Regions from separate parts of the Homo sapiens genome. Here all the other regions are linked to region 1. Evidence: fine-mapped expression QTL. A gene starts in region 1. Each other region holds a variant in brackets. All regions are shown on one strand. Distances are from middle to middle. Region 1 holds the start of LDOC1 (LDOC1 regulator of NFKB signaling). Region 2 has its middle 16 kb from the start of MIR320D2. Region 3 has its middle 93 kb from the start of SOX3. Region 4 holds the start of SPANXB1 (SPANX family member B1).

What was found. PIP is the estimated chance that this variant, and not a neighbour inherited with it, causes the effect.
Region 2: its variant is fine-mapped to the expression of LDOC1 in whole blood (TOPMed, PIP 0.97).
Region 3: its variant is fine-mapped to the expression of LDOC1 in lung (GTEx, PIP 0.96).
Region 4: its variant is fine-mapped to the expression of LDOC1 in whole blood (TOPMed, PIP 0.93).

What each region holds. Positions count from the first base shown.
Region 1 is chrX:141,173,415-141,181,547 of GRCh38, reverse strand. LDOC1 (LDOC1 regulator of NFKB signaling) reads left to right here and starts at 4,419. Exons shown (of 1, transcript NM_012317.4): 1 at 4,419-8,133. The coding sequence starts at 4,527. The coding sequence ends at 4,967. RefSeq lists an enhancer at 4,855-5,354.
Region 2 is chrX:140,937,936-140,946,068 of GRCh38, reverse strand. No RefSeq gene overlaps it. Among named protein-coding and RNA genes, the nearest start is that of MIR320D2, 16 kb to the right of the region's middle. The variant T/G (reference allele first, on the strand shown) is at 3,160.
Region 3 is chrX:140,593,886-140,602,018 of GRCh38, reverse strand. No RefSeq gene overlaps it. Among named protein-coding and RNA genes, the nearest start is that of SOX3, 93 kb to the right of the region's middle. The variant G/A (reference allele first, on the strand shown) is at 3,180.
Region 4 is chrX:140,996,264-141,004,396 of GRCh38, reverse strand. It overlaps SPANXB1 (SPANX family member B1), which reads right to left and starts at 1,803. Exons shown (of 2, transcript NM_032461.4): 1 at 1,614-1,803; 2 at 691-966. The coding sequence starts at 1,703. The coding sequence ends at 745. The variant T/C (reference allele first, on the strand shown) is at 4,813.

The sequences.
Region 1 (8,133 bases):
CCAGCACTTTAGTAAGCTGGAGAGGGCAAAGACAGGAGGGAGGAAGTTGTGCCTCTTCATTCCTCTCTCCGGGCCAGAGGTCTCTATTGCCCTCCAAGTGAGGTTTCTGTAAAAAGCAGTCCCAGGTGCACCTGGCTAAGAAGGGGGATGGGGGAAGTCTATGTGGGAAGAGATCTGGCTCTTGGCAGCATTCATGCAGTCCTCTCACAAATATTCTTTCCGAAGCTGTTTCTGTTCCTGGCTGTATATTTGAGTGCTGAGTTAGTTCACCCAGTCGATGTGTGCACACTCATCTGGTGGCTCAAGAATCATGGGAAATTTTCATGTTCAAGAGAATTTTACAGTCTGGATGCTTGATGTGTACCAGGGCACGGTTTGGAGCCTGAAACATGGTGGTAGTGAGTGCCTTGGACTTGTGCTCTTGCCAAACGGTGGAGTCTAAGCCACCCTTAGGGCGTTCCAACCCAGAGCTGTCCTGATAAATTTTACTGGCCCGAGACAAGTACTCCCTATGAGTACTTGTCACAGGGAGTACTTGTGTCTGCCCCCAGCATATTCACGTTAAGTGGAAAGGAACACTTAAGGGCCACTCGAGAAGGGGAAAGAAAATGAGGAAGGCGACATGCAGCTGTGAGCAGGGTGAATGGAGAAGGAAGTGCTGATATGCATTGGCACTGGTGGGAGAGCCTCACAGGCACCTGGAAGCTGGTTAAAATGAGCATTAAGATTCTACATCTTCTATCAACTGATACTACATACCTCTTCCTGACTGCTTCTGTTGTGAGTCAGTGCTAAGCTGCTTGTCTCCATTCCCTTTCTCCAACCAGGGAAGCACCTCCCAAAGTCACTGCTCAGTTCTGGGCAGGACATTTCCTGTCTTCCAGGGTCTCAGAGCACACTCAGAGGGAACAATAGTGGTTGCCTCGTCTGGTTTCCTCCCTGAATCCCTCTGCTGTGGGGTTGTAGGGAGAAAATTAGGGCAGCATCTGCCTAATCATCTCTGGTTCCCCACTAGACCTGCCTGGGCCCACTGAAGTCACAAGGGTCCAGCACATATTAATTATTCAGAGCAAGGGCATGGGCGGGCTTTAGAGTTAGAGAGGTTGGCATGAAGGTATAGCACCATCAACCTATTGCTTTATTAGGTTTAGATATTTACCTCCTGGGTCTCTGGCTCTAAAATGCCCATTCCCATGTCTGGTCCTTGTGTATGAGTCATTGTGACAGCCCTGCCAATCACCTGGCCCAGTGTCTGCTACAGAAAGTGTGCTCTAGGCCGGGCGCGGTGGCTCACGCCTGTAATCCCAGCATTTTGGAAGGCCGAGGCGGGTGGATCACCTGAGGTCAGGAGTTTGAGACCAGCCTGACCAACATGGAAAAACCCTGTCTCTACTAAAAATATAAAATTAGCTGGGCGTGGTGGCGCATGCCTGTAATCCCAGCTACTCGGGAGGCTGAAGCAGGAGAATCGCTTGAACCCGGGAGGCGGAGGTTGCAGTGAGTCGAGATTGTGCCATTGCACTCCAGCCTGGGCAACACGAGCAAAACTCTGTCTAAAAAAAAGAAAAAGAAAGAAAGAAAGTGTGCTCCCAGGAGTCGAACCCTGAGTACTCTTCCTGTATTAGGGCCTGGATATGAAAGGTGAAGCTGGACACTACCTCTGTCCCAGTCAGGCCCATCCTGTACTCTGAACTGTAAATGGGCATGATGGCCAGAGACCTACTTTCCACATTTCACATCCCTCCCCTCAATCCTTACACTGAATGTTTACGGAGCAGCTAGTAAACACTGCCAGGTGCTGAAGATAAAATTAAGAGTGAGAGTGGATCCCTGCCTGCCAACTTCTCAGGTGGCGGAGCTCATAGCACAGGAGAGGCCAAAAGCTCACATTCCTCCTATCTCTTTTTTTCACTGCTTATCCTTTCACCACTGTGATCTTCCCCGTGTCCCTGCTTGGGGCTTGGCCCTGTTTCTCTGCTCTTTCCCAGCCTCCTACTTCCATGGATGATCATTCAATTCTATCCTAAAGGACCGAATCGAATTTCTTTAAAAATCTATTCAGCCAGTTTTATTACATCAGTCATTGTTTCACAATCGAGACTGATCCATGGTCAGAGATAAAATACACTGAACAATTTTTTTTCTTTTTTTTTTTTCTTTTTGAGATGGTGTTTTGCTCTTATTGCCCAGGCTGGAGCACAATGGCGTGATCTCGGCTCAGGCAACCTCTGCCTCCCAGGTTCAAGTGATTCTCCTGCCTCAGCCTCCCAAGTAGCTGGGATTACAGGCGCCCACCACCACACCTGGCTAATTTTGTATTTTTTGGAAAGACAGGGTTTCTCCATGTTGGTCAGCCTGGTCTTAACTCCTGACCTCAGGTGGTCTGCCCCCCTCAGCCTCCCAAAGTGCTGGGATTACAGGCATGAGCCACCACGCCCAACCTTACATTTAACAATTTGAAGAGTATTTTTTGACTCTTTGTGCAGCGACAACTTCTGATTTTCATCTCAGCATCTTCACTCTGGGATGATTTTACTCGCCAAACATTAATGAAGCCTCTACTCTGGGCCAGAACTTTTCTAGGCATTAGGGATAGACCAGATAGCAAAAGCAGTGTTTGACTTATATATTCTAAAATGGAAGCAGATGATGAGCAAAGTACTGTATATACATACGACATGGTGGCCGGTAGCACAATAAATGTTATGTAGATAAATGAAGCAGAGTAAAGGGTTACAGATTGGGGGCAGAGAACAGGGTGCTCTGATAGGTCCGGTGGTCAGAAAAGTTCTCTCTGAAAGCAGTAGGAGGAGTCAGGCAGCCAACTGGGATGACAGCCTTGCAAGGCAGAAGGAATAGAAGATGCAAAGGCTATGAAGCCAGAACTGCTTGATGGGTGTGAGAATCAGCAAGGAGGACAGTGATTAGAGCACAGCAGAAACTGGGAAGAGGCACAGGATAGAAGGAGGGGCCTTGTAGGCCTTGGCTGCAACTTTGCTCTTTATTCTCAGGTGAAACTGTTGGAGGATTTTGAGCAGGAGAGTGAAGGGATCTTTTTTTTTTTCTTTTGAAACGGAGTCTCGCTCTGTAGCCCAGGCTGGAGTGCAGTGGCGCTATCTCGGCTCACTGCAACCTCTGCCTCCAGGGTTCAAGCAATTCCCCTGCCTCAGCCTCCCGAGTAGCTGGGATTACGGGCATGCGCCACCACGCCCAGCTAATTTTTTGTATTTTTAGTAGAGACGGGTTTCACCCTGTTAGCCAGGATGGTCTCGATCTCCTGACCTCGTGATCCGCCCGCCTCGGCCTCCCAAAGTGCTGGGATTACAGGCGTGAGCCACCGCGCCCGGCCCTAATTTTTGTTTTAAAGGATTCCCGTGGCTACTCTATGGAGAATATACTATAGGAAGAAAAGAGTGAAAGCTAAGTGATTAGTTGCAGCAGTCTGGGTGAGAAAGAAAGGCTAGGAATCAGGGTGGCAGTGGCAGAAATGACAAGACGTGATTGAATTGGCAATATATTTGAAAGCAGAGCCAACAATTCATGTTGGCTCTAGAATCAGGGATCCATTCAAAGTAGAAAAACAAAATTATTTAAAAACACAAACATCTTAACAGTTCATTTTTAAGTACAGAATAATACCCAGTGGCCAACGGCACTAATAGCAAGACAAGAAATAGAGAATCAAAGATATGTGGGATGCCTGCAATTGACTATTGGATGCTGATTTTGCAGAACTTTTTTATATCTTGTTACTTAGGTTTTGTGTGTGTGTGTGTGTGTGTGTGTGTGTGTGTGTGTATACCATATTATTTCCCTACTAAAGAAGTCACTGTTTAAATACTACCTTTTTCATGAAAGGCAGGACCCCCTGAGGGTCTTCATGATTCTAAAAGGAAGTGTGACTCCCACAGGGCAGCCAGCAGTGTCAATACTTCTCTGAGTGAGATTTAAATAAGAAAGAAAATGTGTTAATAAAACATCAAGCCAAGAGAATCTAGTGGCCACAGACCCACGAAGGAACACTGAGTTGTGCAAGCTACCTAGGTAGAAGGGTGGCTAATCCTTTCAGTTTGAACAAATTTACCTTCTCTGAGACCGGACTCAGCGCTCGCCAAGTCCTCTGCTAACGCAGGCCCCACAACTAGGAGCTAGGGGAGCCTATCCCAGCCTTTAACTGCCCGCCGAGAGACCTACCACAAGCCGGTGGTTCAGCGACCCAGCGCATCCTTTTCCTGGCCACGCCCTCTTTGTCTACACCCTTCCCATCCCGGCCACGCCCCCACGCCGCCGCGGCCCCCCCACTCCCAGCCTAGCCACGCCCCTCCCCCGTCGCGCCGGCGCACCGTCCGTCCGAATGGCCTCGTGGGCGGAGCTTGCGTAGCCTCCCGGACCCCGGCGCACACCGCCCCCCGCCCCCCGCCCCTGGCCACCAAGCGCCTCCGTGGACACGCACTTCCTGCGAGGGCTCCGTGCGCACCTTGGCCGAGCCGAACCGAGCCGAGTCCTGTCCTTCCAGGCCGTTCGCAATGGTGGATGAGTTGGTGCTGCTGCTGCACGCGCTCCTGATGCGGCACCGCGCCCTGAGCATCGAGAACAGCCAGCTCATGGAACAGCTGCGGCTGCTGGTGTGCGAGAGGGCCAGCCTGCTGCGCCAGGTACGTCCGCCGAGCTGCCCGGTGCCCTTCCCCGAAACGTTTAATGGCGAGAGCTCCCGGCTCCCCGAGTTTATCGTGCAGACGGCGTCTTACATGCTCGTGAACGAGAACCGATTCTGCAACGACGCCATGAAGGTGGCATTCCTAATCAGCCTCCTCACCGGGGAAGCCGAGGAGTGGGTGGTGCCCTACATCGAGATGGATAGCCCCATCCTAGGTGATTACCGGGCCTTCCTCGATGAGATGAAACAGTGCTTTGGCTGGGATGACGACGAAGACGACGACGACGAAGAAGAGGAGGATGATTATTAGGCCCTCGACCCTCGGGCCTCGGGGGGGAGGGCCCTGCACGCCGCCACCCCCTCCCCGCAGCCCTCACCCCGCCAGGAGCCACTGCTCTCCCCCTTGCCCTCCGGTCCCCTTACCTACCCGCGCCCGTCTGCTCTCTCTCTTCATTTCTCCGTAGTGCTTGTCTTTGTTCCAGGAATAGCGCTCCAGTTACCTGCTGCTGGGGTCGGGGCTGGAGCCTCACTCACTCGGAAGTGCTTGGAAGTGTCATCTACCCTGGCCATCCCCGGGATCCCTCCCCTGCTAATCTGAACTGTGTCCTGAACCCCAGCTATTGGCCAGGCCCCTGTTACAAACTGCGCAGACCACCCGTAGCCCTGCTGCTGCCACCTGCCCTGCTGCCAGGCTTACATCTTCCCAGAGAACTATGCTGCCACTTCACATCCACTCACCACATCCCACCTACAGACTACCACCTTTCGAGATCAGGACCAACCTGGAAAATGCCAGAGTTGGCTATGCCTTTTCAGACATTGATTTGGACAGCTCACCAACCCCTGAAGGGGCCGTTCAGCCTGGTTAGTTTTCTACCTACTCCGAGTGTCCTCCCCTGCCCCACCAGATTGCTGCAGGGGCGCGGTGTGCCTGGCAGCCAAATTGTTGACACTTCTTTTTTCCTATGCACTGGTTTTACACAGCTGTCATTTTTCTTTCAAAATTGCAGCAGTCCCACAGATGTGTGCATTTGGACAAATAGTACTTAAAAACAAAACAAACAAGCACTCAGCCCAGCTCCTCAATACTACCTGGAAAAAGCATTGGCATTATTTTCAATAAATATCAAGCACTAAAAAAAGAAATGATTGTCTTTTAATGGTTAAGTGCTATCACTGGCCTCTACCACTGTCACTCTGACTACCATTATTCCCGTGGAAATCAGGGAATACAACCAATCCTAGTATTCCCCGCTGTCATCTCCAGGCTGCTGGGGACAGCTACCTCAGGGCTTTGTCAGGGTTCTGATGCTCCCTTCACCAACGCATTTCTTAAAGCCCTGGCAAAGGGTGTGTTCTCTGGGTCCTCCAGGGTGGCGTGGTTAAGGGTTGGCTGAGCAGACGGCAAAGAGAGCAGTATTAATAATTAGACCATAACAATAGGCGTAAACCTGGACATATATATGTAATGCTCCTAATTCTCTGAGCTTTTGGATTCCTTAACACTGTGCCAGGGAAGTTCTGCCCCTTAATCCTTATTGCCTATGTGCAGCTGTTGAGTTCAGACTCCAGAGAGCCAACATAGTAGATTGTCACTTTCAAACTCCAAATAGCCAACATGTCACTTTCAGGTGCTCCAGCTAACATTAAGTCCCGGATCCTGGGCAAGTGCACCCATAAAGATATAGCCTGATCTTAACAAACATTTCGTTCTCCTTGGACAGACATCCTTAGAATTCCCACTCATAGATGTGTCCCAGATTCCTCCCTATGGAAATTAGCAAGATGCTTGGTTATCTCTTAAATCAGACCTTGTACTGCTATCTAGGGGCTATGCTGAGATCTCTGGGCCTGGAGGGTTCAGAGCAGTGAAGGGGGTGGCTGCTGAGAAGAAGCTGCATACCTGTGTGAGGCCATTGCTCCAGGTTAAGTCATTGAAATGTTTAATGCAGAGCAGCTTGGTTGGGGATTTGAGAGGACTGCCTCTTAGAAAGGTTTAGGAGGATATGAGGGGTTCAGAGTTCTCTTTTATATCTGTCCAGATGTCCTCATTGTACCATGTCTGGAGCCAACTTGACTTTATAACCTTTAATTAATTTAGATAACACATTTCCGTACTGTTTAAGGCCTTTTGAGGCAAGATATTGTATTTGTACTGGTAAACCTCAGTGTTGATTAAATGAGATATGGGTCTTCATATTAATCACCTCATAGGTGCGGATTAAATGAGATCATACCCATGAAGCATTTAGAACTTTCCCTGCTACATGGTGAGCACTCAGCAAACCATGGGCTGTTACTCCTGGGCCAGGGAACAGAAGTCTCAGAAAGCAAGTCTCTGACTCTGAGCCTGGCTTTAGTAGGAAAATGTCAGCGTGAAGAGGAGCAGAGCAGGTTCAGGGAGAATGGAAATGAGAGCATGATAAGACCCCATTTACTTTTTGGAGTCTTATATGAAGCAAGAAACAAAGCTGTTTTACGTGGTGGACAGGCAAAGTTCAGGGTAGGAGTTATATCTCACCCCTAGGATAGCTGTTTCTGGAGGGTGGGGACAGGGTTGCGTATGACTTAATAAAAGAGGCTGAGGCTTGGGTGGAAATGAGATCTGGGGCTCTTCAGGGAGCTGCCGCCTCCAAATCTGAATCAAGGAGACAGCTGGTTATTTAGAATTCATTGATCACTTCTCCCAGTCTCCTTGGAAAATATACAAAACCCCTTGGAAGAGAGAGATTATATTTGAGACATAATATGTGTGAGGCCAGATAATTACACTTTCTTCCTAACTAGAAAGGCCTTGAATTGGGGATAAATGTGGAAAAGTGAGCAAGATCTAAAAGGTAAAGGATCCAGTGAGACCAAAAGTCATTTATTCCAAACTGATTATGGCCCAGTTATGCTGAGTGGAGTTACAGAAACATCTTTGAATAAAATGTGATCTCTGCCTTCATAGCGAGTCCAGTCTGCTGCTTTTACTGTGCCCTGGGTCAGAACTTTGATGATTAGTTACAGGAAAGGGCCAGGAAGAGAATCTGGGCTGTGATTAGATCTGGGAATGACCTTTCTGGGGTGGAAGTTGAGGACATATGAGTAGGTGTTCTGTGGAGGAAGGGAGGTTCAGTAAGGATGCCATGCCAAGGCAGCATCTGAATGGCATCTGGGAGAACTAGGCCAGGGAGCTTCTGTGATCTGAAGTGTACATTTCCTGAGTATGTGTGCATGTGCACATGAGCTTGCTGTGACCCAGTATGTGTGTGCTCTGTGTGTGTGTGTGTTAAGTGATGTCCTTCTTACATCATGGACAAACAGGTTATGCTGTGAGATGCAGAAAAGGGATTCTGGTTACTTTGGGGGCAGATTCTGCAATAAAAGCGCAGATACTGGCAAGGGCTCCACCACCCAGGGAGGAATTCATGATAATGGCATAAAGCATGGCAAAAAAGAAGGAAGAAGTAGAAGTATGTCTAAGGATAAAAGTG
Region 2 (8,133 bases), 240 kb after region 1:
AATTGATTTCTGGTTGGTTTATTCTGCAGTGGTCTGAGAAGATACTTGGTATAATTTCAAATTTTTAAAAATTCATTAAGACTTGTTTTGTGGCCTAACGTATGGTCTGTCTTGGAGAGTGTTCCGTGAGCTGATAAGAAGAATGTATATTCTGCAGTTGCTGAGTAGGATGTTCTATAATGGTCTGTTAGGTCCATTCTATCTAAAGTTCAATTTCAGTGCAGTGTTTCTTTGTTGATATATTAGACTTTAACATGTACTCTGAAATGCTAAAAAGAATTGAGGAATCTGGGTTTACACTTAGAAGTTCTTTTAATTAAGCAGAGTTCAGTCTGTTCAGCTTGAGTTGATCCAACATTAATCAAAGGCTGCCTTGCAAGGGATTGATAAAATACACAGGATTTATGGAATAGACTAAGAGTTTTAAATTACATTTAAAAGTGAGAAAAATAACTACTTTTTAAGTGGTTTTTAGATAAATTAATTTAAAACCAAGTAACTGCAAATAGCATTTCCTGCGCACAAAAGGTCCCCCTCAGGGATCAAAAAATTTACACTGATGCAACCGAGTCATTCTCTCAAAGACCATCTCAATCACACTCTCAGGAACTACTGTGCATTTCCTATACCAAAAACCAGACTAATAATGGCAGAAATTGAAGGCCGGCCACTCAAAATACCATTCTCAACGCTATCTCCCTGGCTCATCTCCCATTATAGAGAACCTAAAGCTCAAAACATTACTTTCCTTGCCTTCTTCACAGCAAGTGATAACCTGTGACTCAGATCTGGCCAAGAAGACCTAAGTGGAAGTTTTTGGGTACCCGCTGCTTTCTTGAGGCATATACAAGAGGAGAGCTACTGATAGCGGTTCTTCTCCACTTCTTTCTGCCTAGGAAAGATTATGTGATGTTGGGATGTGCAGCAACTATTTTGTGATCCTTAGGTGGGCAGCACAAAATTGACAGAGCAACCTGCAAAGAATGGCAGAGAAGAAAAATAATAAGAGTCTGGGTCATTGAGCTTCCAGACCAACCCTGGGGCCATCTGTGTCTGGATTTTCTTACTACTAAATAGTAAATATCCTTTTTTTGAGGAACTACTGGACTTTTGTTACTTTCAGGCAAAAGCTTGCATAATGGATATACAAGAGAAGGTCAACTGGAGTAGGATTGCCCAATAGGATCAACACAGATAAGAAGCAGAGAGCATTTCGAGGCCCTTTCCTCAAAAACCTCATATAACAGCAGCATAAGCCGAGTTCCCAACAACATTATCACCGTGCTCAAAAGCCTAAAAGAAAGTGCAAAAAGATGAAGAAGGGAGAAAAAATGTGAGATGTTTTAAATCTGAATGTGGATAGACTATTAATTTGTATTAATTAATACATCACAGATTTGGACTGAGTTTACCTGGAAGCAGCTAAATTAAAGATTTTATTCCTGTTGCTATGGTGGTGGTCATTGTTGTTTTCTACTGCTAATAAGGTAGACTTGGAAAAAAAATGCTTTCACTAACATAAAAATAAAGTAAGTTATGTTTTAGCATATTTGAGTCTGTGACCGTGGTATTCACACCTTTGTATCTCTTCTTTAGCTATTCAGATATTAGGAGGCTGCCTAGCATCAGACAGATTGACAGATGAATATGCTTACAGAATATATCAACCATCTCACATTAAATTAAAACATATATTGAGTTCCTTCTATGTGCCTAGTTCTGCTCAGGCTTTGTATTTCTAGTTTGGTACTTTTAAAATATTTAAACAAAACAGTTGACTTCGCAACTCTGGGCAATACAAACCACAAAAGCTGAACGTGAATCTGAACTAGAGGCCAGTTTCCTAAGGCTATCAGAAGGCTGAAATCTCATAAAAGAAATCAAAAGAAGGTAGAAAACAGTCTTTCTCTCTTTTCCATTAGTGGAATTGTAAAGGTTTTACTTCTTTGCATATTGATTTCTCCTATGATTTGCTAAATGCCTAAATAGAAAATCTAATGTCTTTTTTCATGATCCAGCTGAACCCAATAAACTTTGTTGCCTTTGTTCTATGATACATCCTTGGATTATAAGAAAAACATTATAAATGGAAAAGATATTTCAGATGTTGCTGGGGTGGGATGCCTGGAAAACCAACTCAGCCAAACCTGATTTACCAAAGCGGGGAGGAAGATAAAAGGCCCACAAAGTCCCACCCAATAAGGCTTTATTGTTTTTAAATTTAGTTAAAAGCCAAGACTCTGGCTTATTCATTCCCATCGATATCATCAACTGAGAAAGGAAGCATGAAAGCTTATCTATTGATTTTGCTTTGGCTTTATAAGTAAACTGCACACTCTTGTTATCTAAGCATTTCCAAAACTACAGGGTAAGCAAAGTAGACTTTAAACCATTTTGCATTTGGATTCAGTTCACTCATTGACTTTGATAATAGCACATTGTATGTTGGTTTCTGCCAAAAATTCATTCAAGAATAGGTCAATAAATAGAGTAGATGGAGTGATGAGTGGATGCATAGTGTGTACAAGTACAGAAATGGCTATTTCCAATTGTCAAGAATTTTGTATAGCCTGACAAGGGTTAATTTACTTCAACCATTAATTTAACTCTTACCAATTGATTGTCTTCTTACCAGATACCACTTCCACTCCATGCGGCTCATCCTTTGCAGGAACTCTCTCAATTCCTCCATGCTTCCTGTCTACTCCTCAACTAACAGTGTACCTTTCCTTTTCTTTTTTCTTTTTGAAACGAAGTTTCACTCCTGTTGCCCAGGCTGGAGTGCAATGGCATGATCTCGGCTCACCACAACCTCCACCTCCTGGGTTCAAGCGATTCTCTTGCCTCAGCCTCCTGGGATTACAGGCATGTGCCACCACATCCGGCTAATTTTGTATTTTTAGTAGAGACGGGGTTTCTCCATGTTGGTTAGGCTGGTCTTGAACTCCCGACCTCAGGTGATCCGCCCGCCTGGGCCTCCCAAAGTGCTGGGATTACAGGCATGAGCCACCACGCCCAGCCTAAGCCACTGTGCCCAGCCCCTTTTCTTCTGTAGGAAAGAATATTACCTTGCTTTCCACTGCACAGCCTCGTACATGCATCATGCTAATTTTCAGTGCAGCTGTATCAACAATTCCTTGAGGTGACTGTCAGCATCTG[T/G]AAGCCCTCATCAGGGACATGTACCCTCATGGAAAAAAGCAATGTTTTTAAACAAATAGCACCTTTCAACTTTCTTGTAATAATTGTCCCTACATCATGTTTATCTTTCAAATCAGCCTTTAGCATTTTAAAGTATACATAAACTATATGGCAAAGTTATCTTTTACTCTATCCTAGGGATTAAATGGGGTAAAGTGGGGAGGATTCGCTGATATTAAATATATATCTCTGTGTGTGTGTGTGTGTGTGTGTGTGTGTGTGTGTGTATACACACATATATTCAGATATATATTCCACACCATATGTATCTATAAACATATATAGATATCCTTAGAAAAATTAGTAAATTAATTAAGATGTAGAGCTATATAGTACTTTATAGATAATGAATATCTTTTTTTTTTTTTTTTTTGACGGAGTCTTGCTCTGTCACCCAGGCTGGAGTGCACTGGCATGATCTCGGCTCACTGCAACCTCTGCCTCCTGGGTTCAGGCCATTCTCCTGCCTCAGCCTCTCCAGTAGCTGGGATTACAGGTGCGCACCACCATGCCCAGCTAATTTTTTGTATTTTTAGTACAGAAGGGGTTTCACCATGTTGGCCAGGCTCGTCTCAAACTCCTGAACTCGTGATCCACCCACCTCGGCCTCCCAAAGTGATGGGATTACAGGTGTGAGCCACCACACCTGGCCATAAACATCTTTTTTTGTTTGTTTTATTTATTTTTTATTTTTATTTATTCATTCACTCGAGAATATTTATTGATAATCTACTATGTGTCAGGCATTTTTATTGGCACATGAGATAAATAAGTAAACAACAAAACATTCAATGATCCTTTTTCTTGTGAAAACCAGCAAAGGGAAACATAACATTTGTAAAAATCATTATAAATTACTAAGTCGAAGTTTATATCTATTGTCCTGGGATAATTTAATGGCACCCGCTTTCATTTTCAAAAATATCCCAGTTTTTGCAAAATGTTATATGATCATTCTATAAATAAGTATGTTTAAACAATGAGTAGTGCTATGGAAAGGAAAACAGAAAAAGTACAGCAGGATAAGGGAGTCTGAAATGCAGAAAAGAGTAGTTGCCATTTTAAATAGAATAGTCACTGTAAACTTCATTGACAGGGTAGCATTTGAGCAGAGTCTTGAAAGAAGTATGAGTGTGGGCTATGCAGCTCGCTGCATAAAGACTATTCCTGACAGAGGCAACAGCGAGCAACAATCTTGGAGGTGAAATTGTGCCTAGTGTGGTTGAGGAAGAATACCAAGAAAACCTGCAAGGCTAGAGCAAGAGCATCTGAGAGGACCAGATGAGGAGGTCAGAGTGGTAATGTGGGCAGGCACATCATGGGGGGACATGTAAACATGAAGATTTGGACTTTAATTCCAAGTGAATGAATGAATTCACTGGGGGAAAAAGGAGAGTAATAAGTTCCACTAATATCTGACTTGCGTTTAGCAGGATCACTCTGGTTGTTCCATTCAGAATGGCGTTCAGGGCTGGAGTGGCAAGGACAGAGGGACACCAGTCAGGCTGCTATTGCAATAATCCAGGAAAGAAGTGGTCATGGTAGCAGTGAAGATGGGGGGCAAATTGTTGGATTCTGGATATATTTTGAAGGAAGAGGCAACATTTTAATTGGATTTTCAGAAGTCTGAGAGGTGTAAAAAAAAAAAAGCTATTTTTAACATTCCCATTTTACAGATGAAAAATTGGAACTCAGAGAGGATGTAACTTGCTTAGGTTTGTACAACTAATTGAATGGAAGTAAAAGCATAAAACCCAAGTCTCCTATTAGCCTGGGACTTTCTCTACATTGTACAGTGATTCCCAAACATATCACATACTATACAGTAAGTGTGAACTCTCCTAATACCGAGATTCGCAGGAGTGTTTTCCAACAGAAAAAGGGAAGAACACCTTTATCAGCAATAGCTTGGGGTTTCACCTAGGATACATACTAAAGGTTTTGTTCACTCTCAGGAGTGACACTTTTGACTGAAATGATTAAATACATAAATGAAATGATTAAATAAATAACTGTAATGATTAAATGATGATTTGATTAAATGACCTGTGCACATGGACATGGCTTAATACCCTCTAAAGAGGCATTACTCTATGATGGGAAAAGGGAAGGAATAGATAGACTTGGGTTTAAATCCTACCCTGATATGTATTAGCCATGAACTTAGCTCAAGCTGCCTCTTGAATTGGTTTTGAACACTAAATAAAATATAGTCTAAAAAACACACCAGGTATGTTCTTACAGGCTAATTCTACCACCTAGAATTTTCCTCCCTCAGATCTTCATCTGAATGGCTCCTTCACCTCAATCAATATTTAATCAAATGGCATCTCCAGAGATAGACCTTCACTGAACATCCAGCTTCATTTTCTTCAGAGCAATTGTATTAGTCCATGTTCACACTGCTATCAAGAGCTACCTGAGACTGGGTAATTTATAAAGAAAAGAGATTTAGTTGACTCACAGTTCCACATGGCTGGGGAGGCCTCAGGAAACTTATAATTATGGCAGAAGGTGAAGGGGGAAGCAAGGTATGACTTACGTGGCGGCAGGAGACAGAACGAGTGAGGGGAAACTGCCAAACACTTTTAAACCATCAGATCTCATGAGAACTCACTCACTATCATGAGAACAGCAGATGGGAAACTGCCCCCAAGATCCAATCCCTTTCCACCAGAGCCCTCCCTCGACATGTGGCGATTACAATTCTAGATGAGATTTGGTGGGGGCTGGACACAGAACCAAACCATATTAGCATTTATCACTATAGAAAATCTAATTAATTCCTTGTTATATATTTATAGTCTCTCTCACCAACTAAAATGTGAACTCTTATGAAGGCAGGGATTTTTTTCTTTTTTCTTCTTTTGTCATTTTGTGTCCCCAGTACCTAGATTAGTTCCCAATACACAGTAGTCTCCCAGAACATTTGATGAATAAATGACTGTTGTGTCCCTGTCCTGCTCCCTTCCTAGATTAGGACACATTAGTCTATTTGTAGTGTTCTGTGTTCTTTCCCACTTCAAGGCCTTTGAATCTAGCGTTCTCTCTACCTGGCATACTCTGACTCCCACTCTGTCTAGTGGACCTCTACTCATTTTTCCAGTCTTAGCCCAAATGGTCACTTCCTTAGAGACGTCTTCCATGATCTCAGACTAGGTCAGTTCTGCCTATCTTGAGCTCTAAGAGCACAATGTGCTTTTCCTTCATAGCACTTGCTGCAGTTTACAATTATTTATTTACTAGGATGATTAATTATTTAAGATCTGTCTCCTGAACTGGAATGTAAGCTCTCTGAGTTCATTGCTGTTTATATCCAGCACCTAAAACATGATAAGACACTCAATAAGTATTTACTAAATGGATAAAGAAAGGAATCCACACATGTGCAGGAAACTCAGCACATATTATAGAACTTCTGCATGTTTATTGAAAACTCCAAAAATTGAGTTTGGAGAAAAGGGATCCATTTCCAGGAAAAGGTAAATTGTGAAAATATAAATAGGGGCCATGGCTTCCCATTGCACAAGCAGGGAAGATTTACTGACATGAAGGCAAATGGTTTCCAGTCACGTGACTAAGTAAGTAATACAAAGGGCATTTCAAAATATTGACCACACAGCCAATTTCCTCTAAAATTATGTTTTTCTGTTGATCCCATTTTCTTTCAAAAAATTCAGCAGGAGGGCTTGCACTCTGTGTGTAACTTCCTATAAACAAGAACGTGGTTCATTGGCTTCAATTCTGAAAAATGTTACAATTTCAATGCGAAGCTGTCAAGTGAATAGAACAGCTAACTAGATAGCTGTGCCTCCGGCACAAGAACAAACTCCGTTAAGAATTGAAATCCTCGATTCGTGAGTCTCCTGCATGGTGTCTTCTGCACTTCAGTAGGAGAGGATATGAGGAACTACATGGTTCATTTGATATTTATATGTGCACGTGTCATTTGTAAGTATACTTGACATTTATGATTAAAATCTGGCCCTTGGAACGACACTTACTTAACAATGAGAGATATTGAGAGAGGGGAGCATGTTTCCTAAGTAAAGAAGGAGGAGTAACCACAATTAAGCTTCATAGTTCAAAAGCTTGCTTTCTTTAGGAGGACTGAGCCTAGTGTTTGCTGGATTCTGCCCTCCATGCCCCAAAATGATGAAAAGAACATGTATCTATTTTGTCTTGGTTAGGTAATTTGTTGCTGTTTGTCAGAAAATAAGAACGAAAACTCTTGGATGATTTATACCCATGCACATAAGGCAACTTTTGCCAAATCATTCTATGTCCTTTAAGCATCCTAGGCACCCTAATCAATGACCCACCCATCCCCCAATTTTTTTCCCCTTTCTCAAAGGATCCTGTGGCATGCTAGCAGAGTGCAGAACAGCAGGGAGACAAAATAAAGGCCTTAAGAACTCCAATATTGTTGAAAACATATAGGAAACAATGGTTTTGACAGCTGTTCCCATCTGCAACCAGATTGGGTGACTGACCTTCTTTATCACTCTAATTTTTATACCTTATTATCAAAATTGCACTGCCCACAGGCCAAATATGGTCCTCCAGGTGTTTTGTCAATAAAGTTTATTGTAACACAGCCATGCCCATTCATTTACACAGTGTCTATGGCTGCTTTTATGCTACAGCAACAGAGTTGAGTGGTTACAGCAGAGACTATCTGTCCCACAAAGCCTAAAATATTTGCTATCTGGCCTTTTACAGAAAACTTTTACTGACCCCTGCCTTAGGCTCTGATTACCTGACAATTGAAAAAAATCTGGAAAGATTAAAATATTAAATCGTGTTTATAAACAAAATATAGTAAGGTCTTCTCTATGTTGGTTTGTCTGTCAACCAAAGCCTTCAACTTTTAAGCAATAATTTGTTTTCATTTTTGCTTCAAATCTTTATAAAATTTAGCCAGATTGTCCTCTC
Region 3 (8,133 bases), 580 kb after region 1:
CATGTGCACAACGTGCAGTTTTGTTACATATGTATAAATGTGCCATGTTGGTGTGCTGCACCCATTAACTCATCATTTACATTAGGTATTTCTCCTAACGCTATCCCTCCCCCCTCCCCCCACCCCACGACAGGCCCCCGTGTGTGATGTTCCCCACCCTGTGTCCAAGTGTTCTCATTGTTCAATTCCCACCTATGATTTAACTCAGAACTTTGAACACAATATACATTGGTTTATCAATTCCATGAAGATGTTGAGAAATAGGCTAAAACTCTACTGTTGCTCTATAGTTCATTTGCATTTTATATTTCAGTGAATTTAAATCATTTCCTTTATTTTGGTGTTAAGCTTTAATGTTTTAAAATAAGTATATCTTTTGTACTTTTCTTGGTTGATATTTGATAAGCATGCATTTTACTAGTTCTTTATAATGTTTAAACATGTCATACTTTCTACTACTTTCTCTCTCCCATGTATTTAAATTCCTTTTTCTTTTTCTCTTATTTTAGATTCAGGGGTTATACGTTCAAGTTGGTTTCATGGGTATATGGCATGATGCTGAAGTTTGGGCTTCTTATGATCCCATTGCCCAAGGATTTCAGCTTTAAATAGGGAAAAACGTCTAATGCTTCAAATTATTCTGCAGCAGAAAGCTCTGTGTTTGAAAAAATTGGTAAAGATCCAGGCAGAGGCCATATGACCACCTGGCAGAAGTACTGTTAGAGAGTACTCTTCCTATTTGTTTGATCACATCATCTCAAATTCTGTTCTGAAGACTCCTTCAAAAGAGAATTCATGCCTTATTCTGCATAGCATCCTCATAGTGCCTACCACCTAGACTCTGCTCCAGAAACAAGCAGGAAACAACATACTCTAAGGAGGCATCATAGGGGCAGTAAGCTAAGGATTCCAAACATGGATGCCATGCAGAGTTCCTGAGAGACTCAGGGAGAAGAATGAATTCTTCTGTGCCCACACTGATGATGTTTTAAAACAGGCCCAAACAGACATAGAGAAGTTGATGGGCCTTCCTTCATGTCAGTGGTGCAGAGTTTGAGCATGACAGCTTTAGCCTGTCTAAAAGACCAGCAGGGCCAGGGCCATCAAGGGTCTATTTACTTGAGGGGCTGAGTAATCTCTTTTAAAAAGAACTCTTCAATTAGAAGGAGGGCTGGGGTGTTTAAATTTGGTACACGTTCAGTAGGTCAGTTTGGAAAAGGAGAGGAGAGAATTTTCTAAGAATATCACTGTATCTGTCTCTCAGATTGTCTCCAAGCCTAGCCTTCACAGACCTGAGTCCTGCAGCAATGGGACCACCATAACAGGAGAAGAAAAAGTGGGGGCAGGAGAAGAGGAGGAGATAGGTGGAGAAGAAGGAACCCTAAAGTGTCTGGAACACAAAAGAGAGGCATCAGTGTGTGTACAGAAACAAGCCAGTCCTCATCTGGAGTGCAGAAGCAAAGACGCCATTACAGCTTTGGTGGCCTCAATGATGGCCTTGTTGCAGTGGCCCAATGGAGCACTGAATCATTTCAGCTATTGAGGAGTCACAACAGTAGCTGGACCAGGACAGGACAGAAGAAAATGGTAGATTACAATTCCTGGAATATTGTAAAAGAAATCTGATGAAGACTGTGGTCCCTTAAAAAATGGGTGGAAATTAAGCCAAATAAATATGATACCATTTTCATTATTGGTAAACAAGTCTTTAGTCTCAGCCATGGTGGTCAGACAGACATGGGATGCTTCAGCAAAGATTCTGCATTTATAAGACAAAAAGGTTACAAGGCTGTCTGTACCCAGGAAACAAATCATACAAAGTACACAGTCAAAGGCCTCGGGGGAAAAAGAAAGAAAGTGGAACGTTGCCATCGATTTCAGCATCTTAGCAGCACACTGCTAAGTGATCTTTCTTCCCAGTCCTTCTAAAGACAGAGAGCCATAAGTGCAAGGTTTATGGAGTGGCCAGAGAGAATGTGGTGTCACCATGGTATCAGGCCACAGGAGACAAAGCTGACTGAATGGTGGTCCAGCATAGCTAATGATGTTGCTAGGAAACCCATATCTGCCACAAATCTACCCACTCTCCTTTCTGTGCATCATTAACTCACTACAAATGACATGGCAGCATCACCCATAAAGTTGAAAGGTTGCCCACCACAAGGCAAATCAGGAAAATCTCCTGCAGCCAAGGAAGGAAGCAGCCTACTGCTGTTCTCTACAGACTGGCCATACAACCAGCTGGCCTTCAAGGGAGCTCACCCATCCCTCTGTGACACCCAATCACCCAGGTTGCATACCAGAGATGCTACCAGACCTGATGTAGTCCAGATTAGCCAGCCTACACCACAAATAGAGTAGGAGTCATCAGACTAGTTACAATGAGAGCCCGGTTGCAACCTAGGGAACGAATAGCTATGGGGAAAATCGGAAGTCATCAGGTGGGATTGCTGGGGGCAAATGGCAGCAGGAAATGCAGACTGAGAGCGATTTGTATGTCCCTGTAATACTTAATGAGCACAAATTTCTGCAACATGGTGTTCTGGTCACTGAGGATCAGAGTTAAGTTAGAAACCATGCAGAACATCTAGGAGTTCATTATAGAGTAGGGAGAAAGACCTACAAATAAATAACTAGAAACCAATGTGTGCAATGCTGTAGCAGAGAGATGAAGCAAATCCTGTAAGGAGACCAACAAAGAAAATCCACCAACAGCCCAGGAGTGGCACAGGCCTCTTTCTTTGCTCATTAGGTGTCGGGGGCTATGGAAGTCAGCACAACTTACGCACAGAGTCAGGGCAGACTAGGAAGAATGGCTAACTCTGTCTGCTTGTGGCAAAGAGCAAGGAAAGGGGAGAGAGACATTAGCAGTTGGTCTTGAGGGATGAGGAGAATTTCACCAGACACTGAAGTGAGGTGGACCCAGGGATGTAGAGCAGTTGCTCCGTCTAGGCCAGTGCTGTCCGGTCAAAAAGAACGTAAGCTACAAATACAAGCCACATATATATTCTGAAATTTTCCAGTAATTGCACTGAAAAAAAGTAAAAAGAATGGATGAAATTAATAGTATATTTTCTTTAACCCAATATATAAAACAAATCATTTCAACATGTAATCAATATAAACGAATTAAGTTGATTCTTGAACAACACAAGGGTTAAGGGGCCCTGGTCCCCCAC[G/A]CAGTCAAAAATCTGCATAAAACTTGACTCCATCAAACATAACTACTACTAGTTTACTTTTTGTATGTTGTATGTATTATATTTTGATGCTGTATTCTTACAATAATATAAGACAGAGAAAATGTCATTAAGAAAATCATAAGGAAGAGAAAATATGTTTACTATTCATTAAGTGGGAGGAAAACAAAGGGTTCTTCTTGCTGTCTCAGGGGTGGCAGAGGTGGGAGAAAAACCACATGCAATTGAACTTCAAACCCATGTAGTTCAATGGTCAACTGTATATAGATAGAGATAGAGAAGCAGGTGTAGGGCATCCCAACACTTTTTTTACAGGTGGCTATAAGAAGATGGGGCCAGGAAAGGAGATTAAGGAAAAGGAGTCAATGAGGTAGGAAGAAAATCCAGAATCATATCAAATGTTACCAGGTCGCCCTGTAAGGAAAAAAAAAAAGAGAAGAGACCAATAGATTTAGCAATGTACAAGTTGCTGATGACCTTGACCACAGTACTGCCTTCTTCTTCTTCTTCTTCTTCTCCTTCTCCTTCTTCTTCTTTTCTTCTTCTTCTTCCTCTTCCTCTTCCTCTTCCTCTTCTTCTTCTTCTTTCTGGGATACATGTGCAGAACGTGCAGGTTTGTTACATAGGTATACATGTGCCATGGTGGTTTCTTGCACCCATCAACTCATCATCTACATTAGGTATTTCTCCTAATGCTATCCCTCCCCTTGCCCCCAACGCCCCGACAGGCCCCAGTGTGTGGTGTTCCCCTCCTGACAACAGTACTTTCATTGGAGTGGTAGGAATGAATGCCTCACTGGAGTGGGTTTAAGGGAAAAGGGGAGAAGAAGAATTGTGGAGGATTAATTTAAATAGCTCTCTTAAGGTGTTTTGCTATAAAGAAAGTTAAGGAAGAGGATGATGAGCATGATGTTGAAGCCCTGAAGAGTAGGGGCAGAGGGAATAATCTAGAGGCTGTTTGAAGATTTGGTGGTGGGAGAGGGGGGACATTTTTAGCTAATGCTTGTTATTAAGGAAGCACTCACACTTGTTAATGAAAGTGACCAAGATAGGGGAGTAAAATGTCCAACTGCTATTTGTACTTTATATCACTAGATGGTTTGAGGCCTGGATAACATTATTTTGATAAAGAAAATAATAACCACAATGATCAATAACAATAACATTCATGATAAACAATAACATCCAGCATTGGAGTGACAACTACATTATGTGCTAAAGTCTATGCTAAGCATTGTATGGCATTATGGCTTTGATTCTTACAACTATATGAGCTAAGCACTATTTTGTCTCTATGTGGCAAATAAGAAATCTGAAGTGAAAAAAGTTTAAGTAACTTTCCCAAGGATGTACACTGATAAAGTTAGTATTTAAACCAGGTGTTTTGATTCCAGATCCCTTGTGAGAATTGAGAGTGAGGGGTGTTAGCATCAGTGAAGGAAATACTTCTTGCCCTTAAAGTGATTTCTTATCTAGGTCAGCAGGGCACATGGTGCAGACATTCCTCTCTCTCTCCCAACTTGCTGAAATTATAGGCACAAAATGGGTATGGCAGATCCTCAAACATTCTAGGATTCCTCCCTTCAGGTCCGATTGAGATATTCCCCAGCTCCTTGGAAGAAACTAGTAGAATACAGACTCTACTTCATGCACTTGGTTGTATTTTGTGGTTAATCCCCTATATTTCCCTGAGGATTAATAATTTTCAGTGAAGCAATGGTTGAAATCAATTCACAAGAAGCTTTAAGGGAAAAAACTCTTTTGGTAGAAGCAGGTAACAGTGAAAAACTGTTCCTATTTTCTGGCAGAGTAGTTGCCAATATGAAATGAGTTGAAATCTCCATCTACTACCACAGAGAAAAAAAGAGTAGGATGTTCTTTTATAATGACTAATGCAGGCACCTGCACATGAAGCAACAGTGAAAGGTGACCCTGGTAGTGCTTAATTAGTAGACACCAGGACAAGCATGGCTACTGCAGAGTTAAGTTCTGACTTGAAAGAAGTTTCATCAGATCTCCTCCTGCTCCTTCAAACAACTCCAATAACCAAGCTGCAGTGGGAAAGGAAGAGCAATAAAAACAGTAAACATAAAACATACTCAAGTCCACACCTTCGGCTCTGGGTCTGATCACCTAAGAGTTACCAAAGAAAAGCACCATTGGCCGAGGAAAATTTTCCAAAGCATCTCTCTCCTCATCCCCCCCGCAAGAGAAGTTAATAGAGTCACCACTACTGGGCTGCAAACAACATTCTAGGATACGTTAACAATCTTGATATGCTGGAAGGAATGCCAGGTTATAAGTCCAAAGACCTCAGTTTGGATCCCTACTCTGCTACTTACTAGCTGTGCGACTGTGGAAAAGTACTTAACCACTCTGATCCTCTTGTAACATAGAGATAATAATAGTGCCTATCACCTAGGAGAGATATCAAGATCAAATGAGATGACTTATTAGAAGGTGTTTTATATACCAGAAAGCAATGTTCAATATATAAATTATCCTATATGATCCCAAAATTTAGGTTTTTTACTATGGTTACTAACTTTATAGTATCTGCAGGGGCCTATATTCTTACACCAAAAAATCATCATAACCTCTGAATCAAAGCCCAGTGAAGAATTTTGACCTTGGACCTTATGGCTCAAACCCAAGCACTCTAGCCATCTCACACATTTTAGAAACTGTCTAAAAAATACTGATTTATAAGAAATCTCACAGATGGAGATACCTCAACAGATCATCTGCTCCCACATAAGAACCTTCAGGCAGATTCAGGATTATAATTTCCATTCTACAAAGAGGCCATTTATCATAGAGGTTAAGAGAGTAGAAAACATAAACTGTCTTACTGTTAACAGTAATATTGGTAATGTTATTTTTTAATTACCTTATGCAAATTATAGGATAAGCACATAACTATGCTCATATCAAAAGGAACCAAGATTGTCAGCATAAAACAAAAATAAACGTAAAATCAAAGAAATTCAGTAAAAATCCTGAAATCTTATGCAAATGGGAAATATCAAAATGAAATCATAATCTATTTTTCTCTTTTTTTTTTTTTTTTTTTTTTTTTTTTTTGAGACAGAGTCTCGCTCTGTCGCCCAGTCTGGAGTGCAGTGGCGTGATCTTGGCTCGCTGCAAATTCCGCCTCCCGGGTTCAAGCCATTCTCCTGCCTCAGCCTCCCGAGTAGCTGGGACCACAGGTGCCCGCCACCGCACCTGGCTAATTTTTTGTATTTTTAGTAGAGACGGGGTTTCACCATGTTAGCCAGGATGGTCCTGATCTCCTGACCTCGTGATCCGCCCACCTCGGCCTCCCAAAGTGCTGGGATTACAGGCGTGAGCCACCACGCCTGGCCTATTTTTCTCTTTCTATAAAGTACATATTTTCTAGATCTTCCCACCAACAAGCCTAGAAGCAGTGACCACTCAGTAGCAATGAGCAACCGGAGCACCTAGAAGCTGCTGAGACACTAAGTCATCACAATGAACATTCACAAATAAAAGATAAGAAGCATTTATTCTGCTTCTGTACAAACAATACTTCAGGGTAACCAAAGTTGATGAGGGAAAGTTCTTTATAGAACCATTGCAACTAATAAAGAGAAAAGGAATGAAAAAACTCTGAAAACCACCATTTTGCAACTCTCAATGAAATAATAGATCTAGGAAACAATCACTAATTGATGATAAAACTATCAAGATAAAAGTTGATGGGGAAAACTTTGTAATGGCAGGATCAGACTGACATCACTTGAACCTACTGAGAAAAGTTTACATCACTTTTTAGTGATGATAACCAGACATTATGCGGTTCATGATGTGATACAATAGGAAATATGCAGCACTATCTACAAAGGAGTCTAAAAATGTGCATGCACAGGCACAAACACACACATATAAATACCTCTTAATTTAATCAATCATCTAGACTTAGCCAGGAGTATAAAAAAATACGGGAAAAAAGAGGAACAAATTAAACCAAAAAGAAGTAATTGATCAAATCGGGAATGTGGGACATATCACAGCTCAAATGAACTATTTTCTTAAGTAATAAATGGCAGGGGTAGGGACCATTATATATTCAGAGAAACATAGTGACATAATTTCCAAATGTAGTGAGTTGATCTTGCTTGAATTCTGATTTGAACAAACCAATGGTCAAAAGAAAAACTGAAGGCCACCAGAAGAAATTTAATATGAACTGGACATTAGATGATATTATGAAATTACTGTGAAATGTTAGACATTATAACGACATTTTTGTTATATATATAGGAAATATGCATTGAAGTATTTGAAAATAGAATGACATGATGTTTGAAATTTGCTCTACATGCATACAAATATTTGGAAGACATGGTGAGTAGATAAAATAGCAGTATGCTATTAATTACTGAAGCTGAATGACGAGTGTTTAGTGATTCATTATAGTCTTCTTTTTATCTATGCTTGAAAATTTCATAATTACAAGTTAAAAAAAAAAAACAAAAATAAGATGAGCATACATAAGTTCTTGAGCCAGACAGCCTGGCTCTGCCACTCACTGGCCAAGTGAGAATGAACATATCACTCACCCTCTCTCTGCTTCCTTTTCCTTATATGCAAAATTGGGATAGTAACAGTGCTATAATATAGGGTTGTTGTGAGGGTTAAATGAATGTATACATGCAAAGTGCTTAGGGTACTTAAGTGTTAGTATGTGTTAGCTATCATCATCATCATCATCATCATCATCATCATTACCATCACCACCACCACTACTACCGCCAATGAAGACTTGGAAGTAATAACCCTCTAAAGGCAGGTTACTAAATCAGGGGTCTGCAAACTTTTCCTGTAAAGGGCCAGACGGCAAACATTTTAGACTTTTTCAGGCCATATGACCTCTGTTGCAATTACTCAACTCTGCGCATGGAGCACAAAAGCA
Region 4 (8,133 bases), 180 kb after region 1:
TAAAAATGATCTCACCACATCACACCTAACCCTTCTCACCACCTTGCAGTTCACATTCCATGGAAAAAAGCTCCTCATACTTAAGAGTGTTTTACTTTCCTTTTCCCAAGTCGTGGCGATTTTGACTATTCACACTTGCGGATATCAACACATTTCTAAAGCATGCTTATCTTGATTAAACACTGCTGAGGTTATTAAAACAGTAACATAAATATTTAAGATGCAGTGTACATTTTGTTTTAAAATTTGGCTTTTCAATCATTTCATTACATGCAATGCTTTCCTGCCGTTTACTTACTCCTACATCTACTATCTTCTTTTGTATTGTGCTTTGTGTTTTACAGAACATTTACGCTTTATAAAGCATATATTTCTAACCTAGGAAAATATCAAATGGAAAGGGGATGGGAATACCTTTGATATGTCCATTCAGCAGAACTATGTGCTGCCGGGTACAGTTGCGTGAACATATACACATCTCCACTTCCTGTGAGATAAAATTTTAAGAAGAAAATTTTCTTTAGGAATCAGTCCTCCCCCAGGCCTTATTTACAATGTCTGGCTTACTGTCAACCTGTGGGTCTGTCCACCAACCCTACAGGACCTCATATCCCTCCCTTCTCAAATGCCTACCTCTTCCCTTCCCTTCACCCCCCACCATCAGAAAACAGGCAGAGATATACACAGCCATCAGCTTCTCAAACTTTATTTTCATTGCCGAAGTTTGAGGGATGTAGCTTCTTGCTACTTTTTAGGTCTTTCAGTCGTTATTTCTATGAATTCCTCCTCCTCCATTTGGTCGGGGTTGATTCTGTTCTCTCGGGCGTGGTCATTCAGCAGTTCCTCTGGAGATGTTCTTTTCACGTTCCTCCTGTAGCGAACCACTAGTATGGTCGAGGACTCAGATGTTTTCATTTTTTTAGGAGCAGGTTGCGGGTCTGAGTCCCCAGTTGGGGTCTCCGGCATCTGTTAAGAAAACAGGGAGAGGCCAGGAGGACATTATTTTGGGTGAACAGGATAGAGACTGGATAGCAAGGGGGCTTCATGAGAAGAAGGAATGCAGGTTGAGGAAGGGGTTTGATCCAGAGAAGAAGAAGGTTGAAGCACAGAGTAGGGATCTATGGGGAAGAAGAAGAGGAGCGTGGGTAGGGTCACCTGTGAGTCCAAACTGCACCATTTTGTCAGTTCTTTGCTATTTTGCAGACCTTGGTCAAAGTGAAACATCCCATGGGGGTTCAGGCCGTGAGAAACATCCTGCCTAACCACCTGTCCGCAAGGCGGACAAAGGCCCAACTGAAGAAACATCCCTATCATATCTTGCTTGGCAGCGTTCTAAGGAACACCACAATGATATTCCACCAGAAAAAGGGCCAAACCACCTGATCATAAGAACATCTTATCAATATCCTGCCGGGCAGCAAGCCATACTGCCCAGGCCCCTCCCACCCCTACCTACAAGCACCCCAGGTTGTAAGCGGCGGTGGGCTCTGGCATTAAGCGGGCCCCCCACTTCCACAATGGTCTGCAATATTCCTGTGTTGTTGTTTGAGCCGCCCCCGCTCTGTGTGTCTTTCTTTCACCCTCGCCTTCACTTCAGAACCTAACAATCTTACCGTCTTGTTGGCCTCATTGGCCTCGTTGGCCTCGTTGGATTCACAGGGGACGCTCCTCTTCAGCCTGCGGACACTGGATTGTTGGCCCATTGTATATATTGGTTCTTCGATGTCTACAGTAGGTTTTTGGAGCTTTTGAATCTTCGCAGTGGCCCAGAGCTCTTGCCCTCCCTATGCATACCCTCCTGGTGACAAGGCAAAGCCACACCCTTGAGCTTTGTTTGATCATACAGGCAGTGTCCCAGCCAATGGCAGCCCTAGGGTGGCTTCGACGTCACAAAGCCCCACTGCTGACCACTCCCTGGGCTTGCGGGCGAGGGGTGACAGGGGTGTAGAGCAAACCAAATGCTGTTGTTGTTTCAGCATCCCCTGAAGATGCATCCCAAACCGATCTGCCGCCGCTCCTCATTTCTCCATGTTTAATGTTCACGGTTCACATGGAAGTCAGAGGATGATTCCTTCAAGCCCTTCCCCACAGCCATTCCTATTAAGTGATTCATTCTTTTGTCTTCCAGCCCTCACCATGACTTAGTATTTTCGATGTCTCACCTCAAATCCCCCACGCTAGTGTGGCTACATTTATTTATTGGCGGAGATGTGAATTATCCCATTTCCCTCCTACAGTTCCTTCACATGCACCTCGAAGACCATTTACTTTTGGGCTACTGCCAGGCAAATTTCAACCCATGTTCTTTTACCCAATGTCCATGTAGTTCTTTTAAGTTTCCTATCTCCAATCTGAAATAATGGCCTTCAGTCTGTCAAAACTTTAGTGAATAAACATTCTTTACCGTGTATCCTAGTCTTGTTTCAAATCAGGGGTGTATATTTTTTTCTTTTTTTCAAATGGAGTTTCACTGTTGTTGCCCAGGCTGGAGTGCAGTGGCATGATCTCAGCTCACTGCAACCTCTGCCTCCTGGGTTTAAGTGATTCTCTGGCTCAGCCTCCTGAGTAGCTGGGATTACAGGCCTGTGCCACCACGCCCGGCTAATTTTTGTATTTTTAGGAGAGACGGGGTCTCACCATCTTGGCCAAGCTGGTCTTGAACTCCTGACCTCGTGATCCACCTGCCTTGGCCTCCAAAGTGCTGGGATTACAGGCGTGAGCCACCACACCCAGCCAGGACGGCCATTATTAAAACCACCATTGACAAGTAAATTTTGGTTACTTCTGTAGCATACAAGAATTTAACATAAAAGTTATAATTAATAACATACACAAGTTATTTCAGAAGTATAAGAGTTTCCCATAATTTTGGAGCACATATCAATGACATTTCTATAAATACAGCCCAAAGAAAGTCAAACACCATTTTATATTTGATGATGCTTCTTGTATGATTTTTATACCAAATAAGACCAATATGTCTCTTTTGGACTTCAGAGGACTCATATCAAAAAATTAATGAGGAATGAAGTTAGAATTTGACTTTGGAAAGTTCGTCAAAGATAAAAAGTTTAAAATGCTTGATATCACGAAATAGGGTCATGGGTCATTGTAAAATAAGTCATTCATTTAACCAAAGCAGTAACTCAAATGTTTCAAAAAAAAAAAAAGGTGAAAATCTTTATTCTTTGAGAGAGGAGGCTTAATATCCCAAACAATAAGCCCTAATTAAAAACAGGATGCGGCAAATTAAGTTTGTTTTTTTGAAATTGTATAATAAAAGTTTAATCATCTTGAGTATAAAATATAATTTCTATAAACCTTGTAACCTTCATCATTTTGCATGAAGGAGTGAGTTAATGCTCCAAGAAAGCCTTGTTAAACTGACACAGCAACCTAGATACTGGTTTTGCTTTAGTGTGCCTTTGATATTAATGGTTAATTCCTAGAGAAACTGAGCTACTTTTCTCTTAATATCAGCCCTTACAATCTCACATGCCCACCTCTTCCACGATAGTCCTTGGGCCTTGAGGAGTTGAATAGTTTTAATTTCTGGCCCTGCATCTCATGAACGCAGTTTACTTTGATTAGCATCTTCTACTGGGCCTGAAAATGAGGCTGTAATTGCTGTCAGTGTTTAAGATATAGCAGAACTTGGTGTCCTTTTTAGACCCAGAAGTCAAAGCCCTATAACTCAATGGCACAAGGACTTTAAAAGCACATACAGAAAGTTACACAGATGGAAGAAAACACTTTTTTAGACCTTGAAGAAAAAATTTTTGGCCTGTCATAGTGGCTCATGCCTGTAATCCTAGCACTTTGGGAGGCTGAAGCAGGTGGATCACTTGAGGTCAGAAGTTCGAGACCAGCCTGGCCAACACGGTGAAACCCTGTCTCTACTACAAATACAAAAATTAGCCGGGCGTGGTGGCAGGAGAATTGCTTGAACCTGGAAGGGGGAGGTTGCAGTGAGCCAAGATTGTGCCACTGCACTCTCAGCCTGGCTGACAGAGTGAGACCCCACCTCAAGAAAAGAAAAAAGAAATAGAAAAAAAAACATTTTTAGCATGAGGCCACAACAAACAGAACACAAGAGAAAAAAAGAAGAAACTTATATGAGCTGAAAATGAGTTGAAAGAGAGAGTTATTATTTTCACCTTTTAAAAGAGGAGAGTAAACCGAAAATGGTGAGATGTGATAAAAGTTAAACTTTGGGTTTAAAGAATTAAAATCTTTTAATTTATTAAGAGTAAATCAACTCCTTAAGAAAATTTTATTGTTCTGATGAATTTTTTTAGTGTTTTTTTTAATATCATAAGCTAAATCTGGAAAGACTATTATAAATAATTTCCCTTTAATTATAGACAACTTTATACAAATCATTTATGACAGCTTGGACTTTCTGTTTTATCCCTTCCTCTTTCTTTATTCCTTTGAGATACAGTCTTCCTCCGTCGCCCAGGCTAGAGTCGTGCAGTGGCGCCATCTCGGCTCCCTGCAACCTCTGCCTCCCATGTACAAGCAATTCTCCTGCCTCAGCCTCCGGAGTAGCTGGGACTACAGGCACGTGCCACCACACCTGGCTAATTTTTGTATTTTTAGTAGAGACAGGGATTTGCCACGTTGGCCAGGCTGGTCTCGACCTCCTGACCTCAGGTGATCCATCCACCTCGGCCTCCCAAAATGCTGGAATTAACAAGCATGAGCCACCATGCCTAGGCTTCCTTTTTCTTAAATAACCAGTTATTTTATTTTAGAACAAAAATTTACCATACAAGATTCTTGCTCAGATAAAATTATTTTCCTTTTAAC[T/C]TTTTGTGCCAAAAATGCCTGTTCATAACTTCCTTCACATTGTTTTTATTCACTGATTACCTAATTTCATAAATAACTTTTAGATAAGCTTCGAATTAGACAAAAAGTATTTTCCTTTAAGATCACATTTCTTTTTTACAGAAAAATGTTTTCCTATAATTAAAAAAATTGGAAATGACCCAGACGTGTAATAAATATCTACTATTTAGCTTAATATAACTTTGGATTTTAAATTATATGACAAGATATTCTACAAGAACTTATTCTGTTACATTTGTGTAATTAATTAATTTTCTAATAGTTTACCCAGATTACTTATGAAAACTGTAATAGTTACCATTTAAAGTTATGTCCTTGTTAACCATTTTTATAACCTGTGAATTTCAGGTTGTCCTGAGTAAGAACATTAAGGTTAGATAAAGGGTCTTTTTTTGTTTATTTGTTTGTTTGTTTTTGTTTTTTTGGCAATAACTCAGGATTTAGCTATTTTCATTAACCAAACAATATTAAATTCCTTACTTACTAAATTTTACATAAACAAAGATAATTCTTATTTGAGCTGCATTCATAGCTTTAGAACCCTTATGCCAAATGTTGACATCTAGCAGAGATAAATAATGTATGTTGAGAATTCCAAAGCCATTTCTAATTCAATTTCACTAAAATTTTTAAAACCAGCTTGTTTATTGAAGATTTGCTTAAGTCACATGAACTTGAAAAAGCATTTGGCTTAAAGTCTATTTTTCTGAAAAGCATTAGATTTAAGTGCCTTTGTTAAGCCAATTAATTAGAGCTCTTTTCTACATTTTTAGTAGTGAAATGTCATATCCATGACACATAAATACATAGATGTATTAGACATGTAGATAGAAGTAGATCTTATAAATTCCTAAGGCCTTTATTTTTTCCTTGTATTTTAGATTTACAATTTCTTCATAACCTATTTTATTGCCCTAGGCAATTGTCAGCTAGATAGCCCTAAATGTGCATATTAAAGGAACCCTTAGGTAAAAAAAATCAGATAGTGAAATTTGCTTCTCAAAGCACAGAGAGAAAGAGTCTGGTGATGTTAGAAGGAGATTGAAGATGGATGCCAAATCAAACACAAAATTGTAGAAATATATTATAGGATTGTATAAGGAGACCAGTTGTATTTAGATAGGGACTACCTGTCTTTTAACTGGATCTCTGAGCTCTGGGCAGAGCCCACACTGAATCCTAGTTCTCCAAAAAGGGAGAATTACTATGAGGCTACACCAAGTGATGCTTTTACAGTGTCCTTTTTTTTTTTTTTAACAAAGACATTTCTAAGTGTTCAAGCTACTTTCTTCCTTAAAAATCCAAGAATAAACTAATAACAGTTTTAGTCAAAAAATCAAGTAACACAATACAAAAGCAAGCAGCTTAAGATCTGAGATGAACTTGTGTGTTTACACTCTTGGGAAAAATAGAGGTTTCTCCCCAAAAGGGAGTGTGGCATCTTCTCCATTTTCTTTAAGGAATGCAGGCAATTATAAACTATTTTACGTCCCTCATGCAACAGAGGGTAGCAAAATAAAGGAGAGACAGCAGAAGTAGATGAAGAAAACAGAATGTCATCGTCTGAGAAGAAAAAAAAACTTTTGCTCAAAAAAAGACAAGGTCCTAGGAGAGAAGATGTAGAAAGTAGTAAAGTTTTTCTTCAAAATTCATCTTGGTTTAAAAATAAAATAATAGACACTATAAATAATAGCTCCTTACTCTAAAGCCTCCTCTCAACTACTAGTTCTTACACTTGAGCCCAGTTAGTTGCTTTGGCTTACTCAGGCATGTCTGGACAGGCCCAGGCAAGTCTTAGCTCATAGCTTATGCCCCTTCCTTTTTTGAAATGTTAATTGCTTCCTTAAACCTTTAGTAAGCAACTTCTTTTTCTTCTTTGTTCTCCCTTGCACTTACCTGTTTAGGAAAGTTTTAGGTTATTAGCAGATTTGGTATCAGTTGAAGACTGTGGGGTCCAGCTCCAGCCAATGGATGCAGGACAGAGCAGTAAGGCTGACCCAAATACGTAAATGATAAATATGTCTGCTTTTCCTTTGTTCAAGTGTGCTGTCACGATTGTTCGATCTGCGAGGGGCACCCTTTCTGCAGAAAGTAAAGATTGCCTTGCTGAGAGATCCTTTGTCTTTTCTTCACGACACCGATTATCTGTTTCTAACAGAGGAAAAAATAAAGGCCTTTTAATACAAATGCACACATGCACACACACACACATCTCAGATGTGAGCTTTTAATTAAGCTGACTTTTAACCCTTGAGCTCCTTTAAAAAAATCTTTCTGAATCTCATTACCATATTTTAGCTAGGAAAAATTGCTGATGTTTCAAAAGAAACAAGTATCAAACCAGAAATGGCTTGATTTAGGAAGCAAACCCAGGCTGTTGTGGAAAAAAAAGAAGGCAGAACCTTAGCTATGAAACTGCAGCATGGGGCAACAGCGTTGCTCTTTCAATTTGGCCTGGATAGCAAAAAAGTGGCCTTGCTATGTACATAAAGCCCCTTAAGTACTCAAAATCAAAAATCTTTATTGTTTTTTCTTTTGCTGAGCATTTTTCCTCCCAAGCCCTCCCCACCTTTTGTGGAAATTTAGCCACTTCAGAGGCCTTGTTCCTCATAATTTGGAACTTTCCTTTAGATTTGATCAAGTTGGATAGTTTCCCAATGAAGAAAGAAAGACCAAAACAACAAAAACAGAAACAAACAACGGCAAAAAAAAAAAAAAAAAAAAAAAGTTAAGCAAAAACACAAAATATCACAAAATTTATATGATTACTGAGCACTCTAATGGTAAGGAGAAATTAAGACCAGCTTGTTGTTAATCTTAACTTTAGACAAGACAAAACCCCTATTGAGCTACTTACCTAGTGATGGGTCTCAGGCTGAAGACTGCTGTCTATTACCCTAGAAGCAGGAAAAAACTCAGATTCATCTTCCGTGCTGGGAGCAAGGTCAAACTCATAAGGGAATTACCTGCCTTCCATTGTGATGGAAGCAGGAGAACTTGCCTTCCTTGTTGAAAGCAGGTAAATCTTCAGAAAAGGAGTTGTGCAGCAAAATAAAGTTTAGATTGCAACCAAATTTTTGGAGATCAGGGATTCTTTGGAGGGGTGGCTTTCAGGCCTCAGCAAATTGTCCTATTGGTTTTAACCATGAAGATAGCTCAAGCTGGTACCAAGTACCAGTAGAAGATTTGTGAAAGGTCAGGGGCACCTACACTCAGAATCCCTCTGTGGTTACCCAAATGTGAACCCCAAATATCTGAGACAGGTCTCAGTCAATTTTGAAA